Regions from separate parts of the Homo sapiens genome. Here region 2 is linked to region 1. Evidence: fine-mapped QTL for protein levels in blood plasma. Region 1 holds a variant in brackets. A gene starts in the other region. All regions are shown on one strand. Distances are from middle to middle.

Region 1 (2,912 bases):
CCGATTATGCTTAAGTCTTTAGTTAAAACTCTGGCATGCACCATTGAATCCTTAGTCAGAAAATTTACTAAAAAATACTGTGTACCTTTGCAAGGCTGTATTTATATATACAGAACCTTTAGGTTCTTTCCTCTCAGATATCTCCTTCTGATTTCTTGTAATCTGTTAACAGAGTGTGTCTAGTAATGTTATATTAATGTCATCTTAATAATAGCTCATATTAAAAGTTATTTCAAATTGCTAGGACTAATTAAAAAGGCTTCTGACAAAGGGTATTGCTTTGGGCAGAGAGACATTTTGATATGTAAATTATATAAATTGTTATCTCTATTTTTTTCCAAGCTTTTTGTAGTAAACCATATTTTTATAAGTTATATAGTATAGAATTTAGAGGTTGAAAAAATTTTTAAAAATCATTCACCATGTTTATAAATGTTAAACTTTGATATTACTTGTATAAAACTAAGAGAATTATTTTTCCCTTTTCATTCTCTTTCACTGTTACGCATTTTCTTTTTAAGTTATTATTTGAATAGGTAACATGTACACAGTACAAAAGCCAGTGAAAAGTAAGTCTCTGCAGCCTGTTTATTGTCAAACCAGTTCCTTTCCCCAAAGACATTCATGTCACTAGTTTCATATGTATCTTTCTAGAGATGTCGTATGCAGGTATAGTGTATGTATATGTCTGTATTTGACACAACGGTGCTATGCAGTACACTTTTACACCTTGCTTTTTCATTTCACAGTATGTTGGAGAGTACTTCATGTTCATGCATGTAAAGCTGCTTCACTTGTTTTATTATAAATAGCTGCATCATGTTTGAGTTTCAGGGAACCTGTAAATTTTCTTTTTGCTTTAGGCATTTGGAACCAGTCGAAGAAACAGGAATAATATAGGAGATTAAAACATTAACTTCTTTACATCTGATGAAGGATGGATTGGAGGGTGTGGTTTAGATGTGTATCATGGTGGGCTTCTAAGTAGTTCTATCCCAGATTTGACCTTGACCAGCCACCATCAAAACTGCAGAGTCCACCCCAGTAAACTTACCACACAGTGGCAGAGGAGACCAGAATGGGCCTTCTCTGCAGGCAGGCAGGCAGGCAGGCAGGCAGAGAGACTCACAGAAACTCTGAGCTGAGCATGGTTTCCTTCTTTATCTCACACTTACTAATGGGAGCCTTTGTTACTTTTTTTTTTCTTCTTTGCAGGTTTAATATGAATTTGTCTGAAATGCCTGTATAAGGAGAAGACTCTATTCTTAGCCTTTTATTCCTTTGATGCACAAAGAGATGTATATTTTATTATTCTTTCCTGAGTTGTCGACTGTAGTCGTAATAAATATTTTAGGCTCCTGTAACCCAAGTTCTTATTTTTTCAAAATAAACATGGAGGATATGAAAATTTAAGAGTACATTTATAATATTATAAATAATTCATTGACATATGTTTTCCATACCATATGCTTCTCTGTTTGTTTCAAACATTGAATATTGGTACTGAAGAATTTATGAATTTTGGTTTTAAAATGTTTTTTTTCTAGAACGATTCTTTTTTTGAACAGATAAAATAATGCAGTATTCAGAGCCTTCTGACTTATTTTGGAAGTGTTCTAAGTATATGATCTCTTTAAG[T/C]ATAGATTCGCATTCTCAAGTCTCCACAAGAGGTAAAACCTGGTGAAAAGCACTACAACATGGCAAAAAGTTACCCAAATGAAGAAAAGGATGCTTGGGATGTGAAGATGTTGCTAGAGGTAGGTCTTAGAATCCTGGATATGGTGCTAACACCACTTTGTCATTTCTGATATGTGGATTGTATGTGTTTTAATGAAGGAGCATGTTAGAAAAGATGGACACCCAGAAGCAGTCTCCTCCAGCTGATCCAGCAGTAACCCCATCCCATGTAGCAGCATAGACAACAAATAACAAAAACTCTATGAAAAAGAAAAACGCTATAAAGCAATGCTTCCTTTTTTTTTTTTTTTTTTTTTTGAGACAGAGTTTCACTCTTGTTGCCCTGGCTGGAGGGCAATGGCGTGATCTTGGCTCACCGCAACCTCCATCTCCCAGGTTCAAGAGATTCTCCTGCCTCAGCCTCCCAAGTAGCTAGGATTATAGGCATGCACCACCACGGCCGGCTAATTTTTGTATTTTTAGTAGAGACAGGGTTTCTCCATGTTGGTCAGGCTGGTCTTGAACTCCCGACCTCAGATGATCCGTCTGCCTCGGCCTCCCAAAGTGCTGGGATTACAAGTGTGAGCCACCATGCCCGGCCAAAGCAGTGCGTCTTAACCTTAATATCTTTGAGGATCTAATGAGACAATCAGTGGATCTTCTCTAGAAAATAACATGGATACCCAATATATAGAGTTTTTGCACACTGTTTCATTAGTTCTGCACACTTAGTTCAGCTCTCTCTGAAGCTTATCAATTTATCTTTTAGGGCAGTAATTATCAAACAGGTTATGAACATGTATTGGAGAGTAGAAATATAGCTTGGAGATCTGAAAGTTCTCTACAGGAATTTAAAATTTTTGTGTTTTTATTCTGGCGATTAATCTAAAGATGGCTAACTTAATCATTTTATGTCATTTGGAGTCTTGCCGTATAACAGGGTGCTGCCATGTGATTCCAGTGTCTTGAGTTTGTGTGTGCTATTACTTTGGTGTAGAATGACTTTATATGAAGCGATAGTTTTTATCTTTTAATGTGTTGGCAAGTTTATTAGTTTCTTGTTGTTGCTTTAATTATCACAAGTGGAGCAGCTTAGAACAACACTTATTTATCCCATAGTTTGCATGGGCTAGTCCAGGTATGGTGTGGCTCATCTGGATTCTTGTTTAGGGTCTCATGAGGCTGAAATCAAGTTTTCAAAGCTTCAATAGAATTAAAGGATATTATAACTATTC
Region 2 (2,909 bases), 200 Mb before region 1:
AGTGGGAAATGGAGATCAAGGTCTCAAATGAAAGGCAGGGTGGTTTGATTTTTAAGCTCCCCTGATACTTTTTATTTATATATTTGCTGCTTCTAGAAAAACCAAAAAAGGAAAGTGATTCATACATAGAATGCCTGTACAAATAGCAAACCAATAACTACCCCCAGCAGATTCTGGCCCTTGCCAGGGTGCGGTTTCAGAGCTGTAAAAGGCAAGGGATATGTACATTGAAATGACCCAGTCCCAGAATATTTTAGATTCAGAAAAGGTCAGAGACTTTCGTAACTAGCAATGACCTCCAGATTAGGGACCATGAATGTGCAGAGTGAGGACAAGGAAGGGGCCTAAAGCTGGGTCTACTGTAGAATAAACAGAATCATTTAAGGTTAATTATGTTCTGATGTGGCCTCCTTAAATTCTTTCAGGCTGGGGACAATTTCTAGCCCTTTAAGATCAAATCAGTGGCTTTGGACTAGAATCTGCTTAATAAGAATGAACTCCAAAGGTGAAAAAAAAACATAAAATCTAAAAATCAAAGGATATGCCTTTATAAATGTGAAAGTTTAGTTTGGCTCAATGTTGGTCAGTTTAGAAATGTGGGAGTAATCGGAGAGATGGCATAACTGGGGGCGGGAGGCGGGGCGGTGATTATACCCCTACCACTACCTAATCCTCAGGGGCTACCAGTTACTTGCTGTACACACTTTTAAAGTACTTTCTAATTGTGGACCATGAGTGGCAGAGTACTGCGGGCGGAGGCTTTTTGCTGAAAGCAACATTGACTTTTATTTCTAGGGAAAGTCTTGTCTGTAGATGAGCACCGTGGGGCAACGGAGAAAATGCTGACTTTCTTGTTTAAAAAAAAAAAAAATTTCCGTAAGCGGCCCTCCAATGGTCCGTCCACTCAGCAGGCCAGCTGTCCCAGGCCTCTGCCAGGGAGGGAAGACGAGTGCTTCAGTGCATGGCTTCGGTGAGCCCTTTAAATCCAGCTTCCCCTGCCCCCACCAAGAGGCTCCCTTTCCCTGACAGGTGTTTTCCCAACTCCGGAGGCCCAGGATTTTGGGGAGTGGCTGAGCCAATAAGATTTCCCTTTGGAAGGGGGGGGGAAGGGCGTGGCTAGTTGGGTCAGAGCATGGGCGGGGTTTGCGCGGCTGAGCAGAGCCGGCCTGGTTGCGTGGAGGGTTGTTTTATTCCCACCGCCCCCCGCACCTTTTTTTTTTTTTTTTCTGGAGTCTTATTAATTTCTCTGTGGGCTGCAGCTGGAGACCGCGGAGCGCTGGAAATGACGCTCGGAGCTTTAATTACCGCAGCCGCCGGACAAGTGTGAGGAAAGCTGAGAGGAAAAAGAAGGACGGGATCCGGGGAGAAGCGAGAAGCTCCCCCCGCCCCGCTCCCCTCCCGATTTGGACTGGAGGTGCAAGGAAACTGAAGAAGGAGCAGAACATAGCCCGGCTGCGGGGAGAGGCCGGAAACCTACCGCCTCTTTGCAATCAACTTTTTTTGGAAACCTTTCGCCCCCCTTCCTTTTTTATTGTTGACCAACCAGTGAGAGAGAGAGAAAGTGAGGAGGGAGCGAGCAAGCGAAGGCTCACGCGGGGAAATAGCTGCACAGTCCGGCCCAGAGCGCCAAGCGCACACACCGAGCACACTCCCACACGCGCACACACGCGCTCACACTCGCCCCCTCCTCGGGCCCCGGCCCTGGACCCGCGGGCGCGGACTCGGTCGCCCGCCCTGGGAGTCGCCACACCGCGCGCGCCGCGCCCGCCCCCCTCGCACCCCCACGCGCGCCCGGCTGGGGGATCTCCTCCGCGTGCCCGAAAGGGGGATATGCCATTTGGACATGTAATTGTCAGCACGGGATCTGAGACTTCCAAAAAATGAAGCCGGCGACAGGACTTTGGGTCTGGGTGAGCCTTCTCGTGGCGGCGGGGACCGTCCAGCCCAGCGATTCTCAGTCAGGTGGGTTCCTTCTGGCACTCCGGTCGCCGAACCTGCAGCCGCCGGCGGGGCTGCCTCGAGTGGCTCCCCTGCCCTCTTCACCCATCCCGGGAGGCGTGGAGGGACCGCTTGACCGGGGCCTCTTCCCTGGGCTTTCGGTCACCCCTCTTTCCATTTGAAACTTACCCTGTATGTGTGCGTTTGCTTTATTTATCGTGAAAAATCACTCTGAGTCCCTCTTTTCTCTCCTTAACCCCCTGCTTTTCTTTCCCGAGCGTTTTGTTTGGGAGCCTAAGCGGGATCCCTTCTGGTGGCGCCTGTTGTTCGGGACATGGGAGACCCAAATCCCCAGTCAGAGGAGACTCTTCTGTCCCTGTCGGGTCCCCGAGGGCAGAACCCGCACCGCCGGGGCCGCGGTCCTGGGGCGGTGCTGGCTGGGCCTCTCCCGAGCCGAGCCCGAAGGGCGGTGGAGAGCGGCGCTCAGAAAATCGGGCTTTGCACCTGTGTGTGCTGCTGGCGACCGCTGCGCCCCCAGTCGCCCGAGCCTTGTGGCGTCAGACGCAACTCGCGCCCAGCCCGGGCAGCCGGAGTGCAGCAGGCGGGCGCGCCTCGGTCCGGGGCCCGGAGTTCTGGGCCTCTTCCGCCGGCTTCCCGGAGCCCTCTCCCCATTGACTTGAGGGGCGCTTACTCGCCTGCCTGACCTCTTAAAAAAAAAAAAAAAGGCTTGGCACACTTGAGCCAGAAGCCCGGCCTTCCCGTCGGTTGCCGTGTTTGGCTCCGGGAAGAGTTCTTCCTGTAGTTCAACTTGCTATTGGCCGGAGTCCTTCAAACTTGTCTGTTTACTGCCCGGCCAGGCTGCCGAGCCTGCGGGTCACTGGATCCACCCGAGGCGAAAGCGGCAGCGGCGATGGGTGCGCGGCCACTGCTTGCTGGAGAGCTCGAGCCCCAGGTACCTGGGCAGGCAAAGG

Direction of the effects. Positions count from the first base shown, and alleles are read on the strand shown. Strength reflects both the effect of a copy and how common the allele is.
With allele T in place of C in region 1, the plasma level of the protein whose gene starts at base 1,609 in region 2 is higher (weak association).

What was found. PIP is the chance, under the fine-mapping model, that this variant and not a neighbour inherited with it causes the effect. Protein levels are from antibody-based Olink assays in UK Biobank. Linkage for the fine-mapping came from a reference panel and not from the study's own genotypes, which makes the PIPs less certain.
Region 2: it holds the start of ERBB4, and the variant in region 1 is fine-mapped to the plasma level of the ERBB4 protein (UK Biobank, PIP 0.96).

What each region holds. Positions count from the first base shown.
Region 1 is chr2:9,520,048-9,522,959 of GRCh38, reverse strand. It overlaps ADAM17 (ADAM metallopeptidase domain 17), which reads left to right. Exons shown (of 19, transcript NM_003183.6): 8 at 1,644-1,757. Among named protein-coding and RNA genes, the nearest start is that of ADAM17, 34 kb to the left of the region's middle. The variant T/C (reference allele first, on the strand shown) is at 1,639.
Region 2 is chr2:212,537,502-212,540,410 of GRCh38, reverse strand. ERBB4 (erb-b2 receptor tyrosine kinase 4) reads left to right here and starts at 1,609. Exons shown (of 28, transcript NM_005235.3): 1 at 1,609-1,962. The coding sequence starts at 1,881. RefSeq lists an enhancer at 2,578-2,909.